Linked DNA regions of Homo sapiens: regions 2 and 3 are each reported to be linked to region 1. The links are microRNA targets in miRTarBase. Many come from high-throughput screens and were not tested one by one. Region 1 holds a microRNA gene; each other region holds the end of a gene's coding sequence.

The links. Region 1 holds the annotated microRNA hsa-miR-6086 (GGAGGUUGGGAAGGGCAGAG, at 2,198-2,217, shown strand). A microRNA usually pairs through its seed, bases 2 to 8, with sites in the 3' UTR of a target mRNA and lowers its output. Matches are read on the target gene's strand: a 7mer-m8 pairs with bases 2 to 8, a 7mer-A1 pairs with bases 2 to 7 and ends in A, and an 8mer does both.
Region 2: the mRNA of TIFA is a reported target of hsa-miR-6086. Seed matches in the 3' UTR shown: 7mer-A1 at 1,401-1,407.
Region 3: miRTarBase lists MAGI3 as a target of hsa-miR-6086. Seed matches in the 3' UTR shown: 7mer-m8 at 1,164-1,170.

Annotation. Positions count from the first base shown.
Region 1 is chrX:13,588,096-13,591,367 of GRCh38, forward strand. It overlaps MIR6086 (microRNA 6086), which reads left to right and starts at 2,197; the gene lies at 2,197-2,251. EGFL6 (EGF like domain multiple 6) reads left to right here. Exons shown (of 12, transcript NM_015507.4): 2 at 1,461-1,573.
Region 2 is chr4:112,275,297-112,278,296 of GRCh38, forward strand. It overlaps TIFA (TRAF interacting protein with forkhead associated domain), which reads right to left. Exons shown (of 2, transcript NM_052864.3): 2 at 1-3,000. The coding sequence ends at 2,566. Among named protein-coding and RNA genes, the nearest start is that of TIFA, 9.1 kb to the right of the region's middle.
Region 3 is chr1:113,683,600-113,686,599 of GRCh38, forward strand. MAGI3 (membrane associated guanylate kinase, WW and PDZ domain containing 3) reads left to right here. Exons shown (of 21, transcript NM_001142782.2): 21 at 1-2,324. The coding sequence ends at 415. Among named protein-coding and RNA genes, the nearest start is that of PHTF1, 74 kb to the right of the region's middle.

The DNA.
Region 1 (3,272 bases):
TAAATGTTTGAGTGACTTATGAATCCCTAAAATTAATTCCATTAAAAAATGAAAAAAAGTTCTCTTCAAGAAAAAGTAAATGTTAAAATCATCCTCCCATTTGGTGCTCTCAGTAAATGAAATGTCTCAGACCATATCTTTATAGCTCTTAACTGAGTAATCACATTTGTGGGAGAGGCAGATCTTGAGGGAAATCTACAAGGTTGTTTAACTTCCCGACCTTGACTTAGATATTATTAACTTGCATGAAGTTCAGTTCTGTAGCAGAAAGCACATGGTAAAATGTGCATTCCTTTGTCTGTTAAAGAGCCCAGGAAACATTTTTACAGTGTATTTAATATGTGTAAGGAAATAATCACAGCCCTCCACTAAACATACAATGCAAGTATTTTCCTTCAAAGTCTGGTAGCAACCCTGTCCAATACCAGGACAGTAAGTAGGTAAACATGCAGTGAGCTTCATCCATGGCGGCACTACTTGGGGGCACTTGGTGGGGGACAGGGGGCTCACCTTTTTCAGGCATCTAGATCAGGCAAGCTACAGCCTGCTGGCCAAAGCTAGGTGATCCCCTCTTTATAAACAGCCCATGAGCGAAGAACAGTTTTTACATTTTTAAATGTTAGAAGATGGAGCAAAAGGAGAATACCATATCATGACACAGGAAAATTATATGCTATTCAAATTACAGTGTCCATAAATAAAGTTTTATTGGAACACAGTCATGCGCATCTGTTTACTATTGCCTATGGCTGCTTTTGTACTTGGACAGATATCTTATGGCCCTACAAAGCCTAAAATACTTACCATCTGGCTTTTTACAGAAAATGTTTGCCGATCTCTGCTCTAAAATTAAGCAGTTTAGCAAATTGGGTTTCCAGGAGGTCAATGGGAACGAGCCCTGGGCTAGAATTCCCAACACCCAGCTCTGCTGGGGATGTGACTCCACTCCATTGGACTGGAGTTTCCTCCTCTGTAACATAAGAGGGCTTTGCTGAACGAGCCCTTCCAACTCTTAATCATCTATAGTGTATGTTGATTCCAGTCTATTCAATGGTTCCCAGGTGCCAGTGGGATAAAAGTGCAGAGCTCTGGTCTGGGACAAAGCCACAGGATTAGAAAGTGACTGAAATAGACAAAGAACTGGATAGTTGCTGTGCGTATACAGAGCAGATCTGAAAAGTGACACTCTACAAGGTTCAAAAACATATACTTTGGACATCTTCATGTGCCCTAGTTTTATAGATTCTTTTAACCGTGGGGAAGAAGGAAATGGTTGAAACTAATTATTGAGGAAGGCTGGCAACCCCAAAATTCAGGTTTTCAAAATCTAATTTAGCACTTACTGCGGGTTCGTTGAAATTAACCAGGTAATTGACATCTCTGGTTCTTTTAGTAGTAGGGAAGAGTTTCTGTTGTCTTTTCTATTTTCTCAATACTAACATGTAGTTCTTTATCTGCAGTGCAAGGCATCACGGGTTGTTAGCATCGGCACGTCAGCCTGGGGTCTGTCACTATGGAACTAAACTGGCCTGCTGCTACGGCTGGAGAAGAAACAGCAAGGGAGTCTGTGAAGGTAATTTTGTAAAAACTCAGACCCTGCACTTGGATCAGGGCCCTTAGGTTTTTATCTGTCATACCATGAACTGCCACAAAATTGCCAGTGGATCTCTCAGGCAAGGACATGCATAACTACCAATAACCAAGGTCTGGGTTCCTATGAGATCTCTTCCCAGACAAAATGTGGCTGACGCCATCATACTTGGCATGATTTATTTTAGAAGACTGTCTTGTCAATTATTTTTGTGATTATCTTAATGAGTATGACTGGGTTGTTTGTTTTTGGTTTTCTTTTTAATCTAAAGGAACTAAGATGGGCAAAAGCAGGCTGGTAAATTTCTCCTCTAATTATAATTTAAGTGATTTCCAATGCAATAAACTTTAATTATTAATCACCCAACCAGTAGGCTTCAGCCACAAAATAAGTACACCTTTTAGCTTATAGATTTGTAACTCACATTTTTAAAATTCATACTGCCAATTTCTAAATGCTTTCAAGGTACATATGCATATATGCAAAGATTTTAAGTATTTTGCTGATTTTTTTGTACATTGCAAACCAAGGAACCATAATTTGCCTTGGACATTGTTTCTCAGACTATGTGTTAGGAACTCCGAGAGAGGCCTCTGATCATTTCAAGGAGGTTGGGAAGGGCAGAGATGAGCATAAAGTTTTTGCCTTGTTTTTCTTTTTATGACTTTCCATAACGACCAACACTGGCAGTGTAGCAGAACCAAATCCACATTCCTCCTGACTGTCTCACCAGGGGTGTATTCCTTCAGGGCAGTAGTCTACTCTCACTGTCCCTGTGTCCTTCAGTAGGTAGCATGTGCCTCATCCTAAGTTATTTATCTATTAAATGGGATAACAACACAGTTGCAGGTCCCATAAAAGCACTAACATGTTAGCTATTTTTAGGAATAACAATGCTACCTTCTTTTTGCTAGTCTGTTCCTGCCCCAACCTCCTTCTCTCTGGCTGGTTAAAAAATATCTGGATTGACCATAAGTGGGGTCAGAACTTGATAATATCCAAAATCTATAAAACAATAGAAAACATTGATATCGTTCCCACATGTTCCATATTATGCAAAACCTTCTGCCATCATAGTTTGCTTGTGACAAGATGACAAGAGCATAAAAATACTAGACAAAAACAAAGATCATCATTGCCCACTTAGATAAAGGAAGTTAGAATATCCTCCTGGGACTTGTGTCAATTAAAAGGGTGGGTCCTCATCCTGATTGGATTGATAGTGTCATGATCAAGGGCATTGAGAACCAGACTGACGTGGGTGACCTTGGGCAAGCTAGCTAAGGTAAGCTAGCTAAGGCTCAATTTCCTCCTCTGCAACCTGGAGAGAGCAATACCTACCTCTGAGAGTAAGGAATGTATGCATTAAAGGGTGAGTTCATTACCTGGCATGCATAGAAAATACCTCATAAATTACCATTCCTTCAGGAAGGACCAATAATTCTCATCACAGACTTCTCGTCATTAAAGCACCAGGTGATGGGGGGATTAAATGTGGCTTTATTCTTTTGCTAGACACAACATAACACATTTTTATTTGAAGTCAGTCAGGTGGAAAGGGGCAAAAACCACGTGAAACACATGATTTAGAGTCTCTCTTACAGTTGCACGAACATCAGCGTCTACTGCCATAAAACTTGTGAGACCCAGCATGTCGCTGGTGAATAAATGAAGGCAAGGT
Region 2 (3,000 bases), not on the chromosome of region 1:
CTACAGGTGGCCATGGAGCCAATATGCATTGAGGGTCAGAGCCAGAGCATTCGAATCTCACCTGAGGTCTGCTGCATTCCTTCCTCGGTTCTATGAAATATGGTAGCTTTCCTCTAACAACCCCGCTTTGGGGTTGGGTAGCTCAGGCAGAGATGCTAACTTTGTAATCAAAACAATTCTAATACTAACCAATTGCTCTTTCATTATTAAAGCGTTCATTATTATTTACTACCGGAGTTGGGCTATGGAAAGTGTTTCTATTCTTTGGAGAACAATATAAACTTTTAGCAACCCACTCTCTCCTTTGCCAATCTTTGAAGAAAAGAAAATAGAATAAAAAATTTAATATTTCTCAAGTTGAACAAAACCCTTTCCAAGATTTACATTAGGAGAAATCATTATTCTGTACAAGATTTTTCTGGCCCTAAATATTACTTAACACATTGTTTGGATTCAATAACAATAATACATGAATCCCTTAATATTAAATTTATAACTTAGAAACACATTCATCAGCCTCAAAGACAAGAAACAGAGGTGAAAGTCTTCCAAAATAGTCAAAATGTGACAGTATACACACATTAAAGTATATACACTTCACTCATAGAACGCCTTTACCATGAGACTACACACTGTAAGCAATTCAAGCCGGGTGATCTGGCTGTAAACCCACATCAGACCAGAAGCTAAAATCCTAGAAAGAATCAATAGTAGATAACCTTATATTAAAGGGAGTATATTAGTTTTCTATCTGCTGCTATAACAAATTACTGTGATTTAGTGGCTTACGACCAACACAAATTTATCATCATAAAGTTTTGTAGGTTAACAAGTCAAACATATTCTCACTGGACCAAAATCAAGGTGTCCACAAGACTTTGTTCCTTTCTGGATATTTCTTTGTCTTTTCTGGCTTCCAGATGTCCAATGCACACTTTCCAGCTTCAAGAGACTGTCCACATTCCTTGGCTCATGACCTCCCCTTCCTCCCAGCAACAGCAAGTCAAGTCTGTCTCACACCTCATCACGCTGACATCCTGATCTGCCTCTCTTCCACTTTTACGGATCCGGTGATCAATTGGGCACACCCAGATAATCCAGCATAATCTATTTTACTTCCATCTGCAGCCTTCATTCCCCTTTGCCACATAACAACACAGTTACAAGTTCTGGAGACTAGCACATGGACATCTGGACATCTTTGGATGGGCCATTACTCTGGGCATCACAGGGAATAAACAGGAAAACCAGACACAGGAACTCCAACAGTCATTCAGGCCACTTTGTACAGGGACAAATATTTCACTCTACTGGAATAGTCCCAGGGCTGGGGAGTCGGGGTTAGGGTGCTGGACATCACATACTACTGCCCAGGAATAGACTGACAGTCTGAATCAAGATGAGGTTTAAAGCCTCTTTTGGTAAGAGGCTGGAGGGTTCCCAAAAGCATTTTTAAAAGGCTGTTACAAAAATACGGACCTCTTACTACAGGAAATTTCATTTACCTGGAAAATTGTACAGTGAGCCTCACTACCTGGCAATGCTACAATTTAACTTAACTGAATGGTTACCTCATCTACTTAACATTCATAGCTACCTTAGTTAAGATAAGTCGAATAAGTATCTTAAATAAATAAATTTTTATTTAAGAACTGAAAAAGACTTTTTTGAAGTTAATATTTTAGAAATATTTAAGCGTTTATCATAAACATTCACATACATTTATCTCTGTAAAGTGGCCCAAGAACAGTTATTTCCCTTATTTAGAAAAAAATTCAAAGAAAATGGCTAATTAAACTTTGATTTTATTATGTACATGGATACTATTAAAAAGGTGAATTCGTGAAATTTTAAGATTGTGTATAACACATAAAAGTCAAACTTCTAATTTGGTAAGTAAATAATCCTAAACTTAACACAGTGGTTCTTTAAAATGTTTAAATATTTGTCTTAGATGCTGAATATAGACAAAGAGAACTGTCATCTTAGGAGTAAACACACTATAACTCTGTAAAAAGAAATCATAGAAAAGTAAGGTAGTATTTCTCAAATAAGTCCTCCCATGCTAAAACCACAGTGACGCGCAGACACTAGCCTAGAACCTATTCCAGTACTGCAAGTACTGACAGGCTGCAAACACCAGTAACAACCTGCCTGGAGCCTTGACCTTGAAAACAAATGGCTGTTGTGAACTGATGTGACCAAACCAAGAGATGGTTCCTTACAAAAACAAAGCAAAACACAAGATGAAAATCAAGCAGAAAAAGAAAATAATATAACCTTATTTTGAGAACACGACTTCATCTCAAAGGATACTTTTTGTATATTAATCCTCACAGATTAATAAGAGCAGTTAAAATAATTTTGTGTAGATCCAGAATACAACAGGTGACTAAGTTAATGACTAACACAATTTACAGACTTCAAAATGATAATACTGAATTCCAAATTTCACAGCATAACAGATGACTATAATATACTACCCTAATCAACTCTTATTTAGTGTCTATACAGCATCTACAGAGCTCTTCATCCATCATATTTCTCCTCTTAGACTTTCTGTGTTCATGACTCATTTTCATCCATTTCTGTCGGAGAACTGCTTTGGGAGGAGCAGAGCGAATAAGTGCCATACTCCGGTATGGGCCTGTGTGGTGGCCAGTTGTTTTCTTGCAAGAGTGATCTTGGAGATAAAATAAATTGAGTCTCAAAAAATTCCAATGACTCGCCATCTTCCTTCTCCATCAGAAACTGATACTCTCCGAATCTGACCATGCACCTGTATGGCAGGTCCATTTTATTTAGGTAGCCCAGCTCTCTGCTGTCCACGATCAGATTGGTCTTTTTACTCATATTTTTTATTTCAAAGGAGAGAACTGAGCTGTTGAATTTTTTAAACAGCTGCAGAGAAAACTGAACTCGGGAAACCTGTTTGTCCTGAAAAGTATAATGACAGATGTTGGAATTTCGGCCAAATTTCACCACTTCGCTGGAAGGGAG
Region 3 (3,000 bases), not on the chromosome of region 1:
TCAGTTGGAAAAAAGCAGAACAAGGTCTCCAGAGAAAAAAATCAAAAGAATGGTTGAGAAATCTCTTCCATCCAAAATGACTAATAAGACTACAAGTAAAGAAGTATCTGAAAATGAAAAAGGAAAGAAAGTAACCACAGGAGAAACAAGTTCTAGTAACGATAAAATAGGAGAAAATGTCCAGCTATCAGAAAAGAGGCTGAAGCAAGAACCTGAAGAGAAGGTAGTTTCAAACAAAACAGAAGATCACAAAGGGAAAGAACTAGAGGCAGCTGACAAAAACAAAGAGACTGGAAGGTTCAAACCGGAAAGCAGTTCTCCAGTTAAGAAAACACTGATAACTCCAGGGCCCTGGAAGGTTCCAAGTGGAAATAAAGTCACAGGCACTATTGGTATGGCTGAGAAACGGCAGTAACCTTTAGTATAAAACAAAGAAAAACAAGTTGTAATCTTTTCTTACAGCAGCATTTTTCCAGAAAAAGCCTTTTTTTTTTTTTCAGATATTCTGAAACAGATAAGTACATGTTAATGTGAGCCTCAAGTTACCTAGGCTGCATGAAGGGCCTTTAGGATTGCTAAGAACCAACTGTCCCCCTGGCCGGCTGCCCTCCCTCGCTCTCAGGAAGGAGCTGCATCCACATGCTCATCTGACCCGCCCTGCTCAGGCTGCCCAGCTCGTCTTCATGAGTGTCTGAACAAATGACATATGTTGATATTAACAATGTGGTCACAACTCACTTTGTATTTGTGCCAAGTTATCTACTGTATCATGTCTGTTTTTATCCTTTTTGTTCAGCTGTTTCCACAGTAATGAAAAAGTTAGGTTTGGCTTGGAAGTTGATGATCTCAATAGCATGTTGCATGTTTACAGAGAGAAATATGTGAGTCCTTGCAGAAGAAGAGACTGTTAACTCATCGTTAAAGATGGCCGTTGTCTCTTCTAACAGCTACTGATGATGTCCCACTTTAAAAATAAAACCCCCAAACATCACTACTTTAAGGAAAAAAAAAATGTAGTCCAATATTGATGCTTTCTTATGGCTTTTTATTTTAATTTGGCTGGATAAGTTGTTTCAAATAACTGTTAAAGATATTACTTACAATTGAATGTTTGAAATAAGAAAGTACTTTAAGCAATAGAGTTCATCTCCTGCTGTGTTATCCAACCTCGATGTATACTTACAGCATCTCAGGTCACCCTTTTTATTTCAGTTATTTAATTATGAAACCATAAAGAAGCATGTGGAAATAGTGTTTATTGCTCTTTGAAGAAAAACCACCAACTATTTCTGGATATTTTGGCTGTACCTACTACTAAAGTCATTAGTCTTTAATACATAATACATATTTGAAAAGTAAACATATTATATAGATTATGTGAGGGACTTAATCATGAAACCAGTTTCACAGTCCAAGTACCAACTCTTCTGGTAGCAGGTGCACAAGCTTGGGTGTTTAAAAACAACCTGTGTAGGGTATGCCCAGCAAATGAGGACAAATGTGTAGACAGTACTTACTGGATCTTATTTAACTTTTAGCTACATTAACTAACTTTCTTATTTAAAAACAAGAAAGGGAGACTAAACATCTGCTTAACTTGTACACATTTTCAGAATTCTTTTTAAAAGTCTAGTTAAAGATGTTTCTTAGAAGTTGGAGACTGTTAACAACTTCCATAAAATAGATCCAGGTTTTTCAGTTCCCTGAAGCAGCATTCAGTAGCATCTATATAAATAAAGGCACCTTCTGAGAATAAAACTATTTTATGGAGTGTGTGAACACACTTGTTCTGTCACCTGGGTTCATCTTGTTGTGAAGCACATTAGGTCCAGGTCCTTCCCTCTGGGAGTCTGACTGTGAAACTCTTTAACCCAACAACTCAATTAGCCCCTGTAGATAAGACATGCTTCCCAGAGTGAGATTTTTGAAATCCCCTTTTCATCCAGAACTATATTTACCCACCTATTGTAACTATTCAAATAGAGCAAAATTAGGAGGCTTGATAAATACTAAGAATTTAGTACCACAGAAATTATTTATTATTTTCCCTGTAGTCCACAATTAGTGATAACGAATCCTATTTTTGTTAACTGTGACATAACTTTGATGTCATATGTTGTCCTATGTGGTTCTTCCTAAGTAAACTCTGTACTGATTATATACTGACTTAGCAATGTGGCCTTGGAATGCTGAGCAAAATGTGGATGTACTGGTTGTAAATGTTTATATATTGTACAGTACCTTTATATATACACTTGAGGTTCTGATTAGAGAAAGATCTGTAAATTGCTCATTATTTTTTATATAGATATTTAAAAAAAACAGTTTATGGCCTGCATTTCTTTTACTGTCACATTGGTTTAATGTTGCTTTCTAATGGTGGAGCTAGGTCCCATCATAGTCTGAGTCCTCAAATAGATTTTGTCCCTCCAAGTAACAAACTTTCAAAGTCCTAAAATCAGGAAGAGTCTTATAATAATGATTTTACCTCTATAGGTATACTTTTATTTATTTATAAATAGAGTTTGAAATTCTTTAGAGTTGAATATCATTATAACCATTTTTCATCTTTCATTGTAAAGAAAATAGCTTTGGATAAATAATTTGCTACTGAAAATCCTTTCTTAACACTGTTGGGGAGAGAAGAGGAGTTTCTCATTGGAAATTCAGCTACTAGACATTTATAATGGATATAGTAATATCAGTCCAGTTACTACAAGGTCACAAAATCCCATTTCATCAGACTAATGATTCACATTATCTTTAAAGATCATTTATTTATTTAGTTTTATACTTACTTTTAGAATGTTTTGACTTAACTCGGTATGAAAAGTGCCTAAAACCTACTTCAAGACCACGGTTAATTTTATACTCTTTTAAGGTGAAATATAAATTCCCACTTACCATTGCAAGAACGCATACTAAAAATAAACCCACGGTCGGGCACAGTGGCTCATGCCTGTAATCCCAACACTTTGGGAGGCCAATGCAGGCAGATCA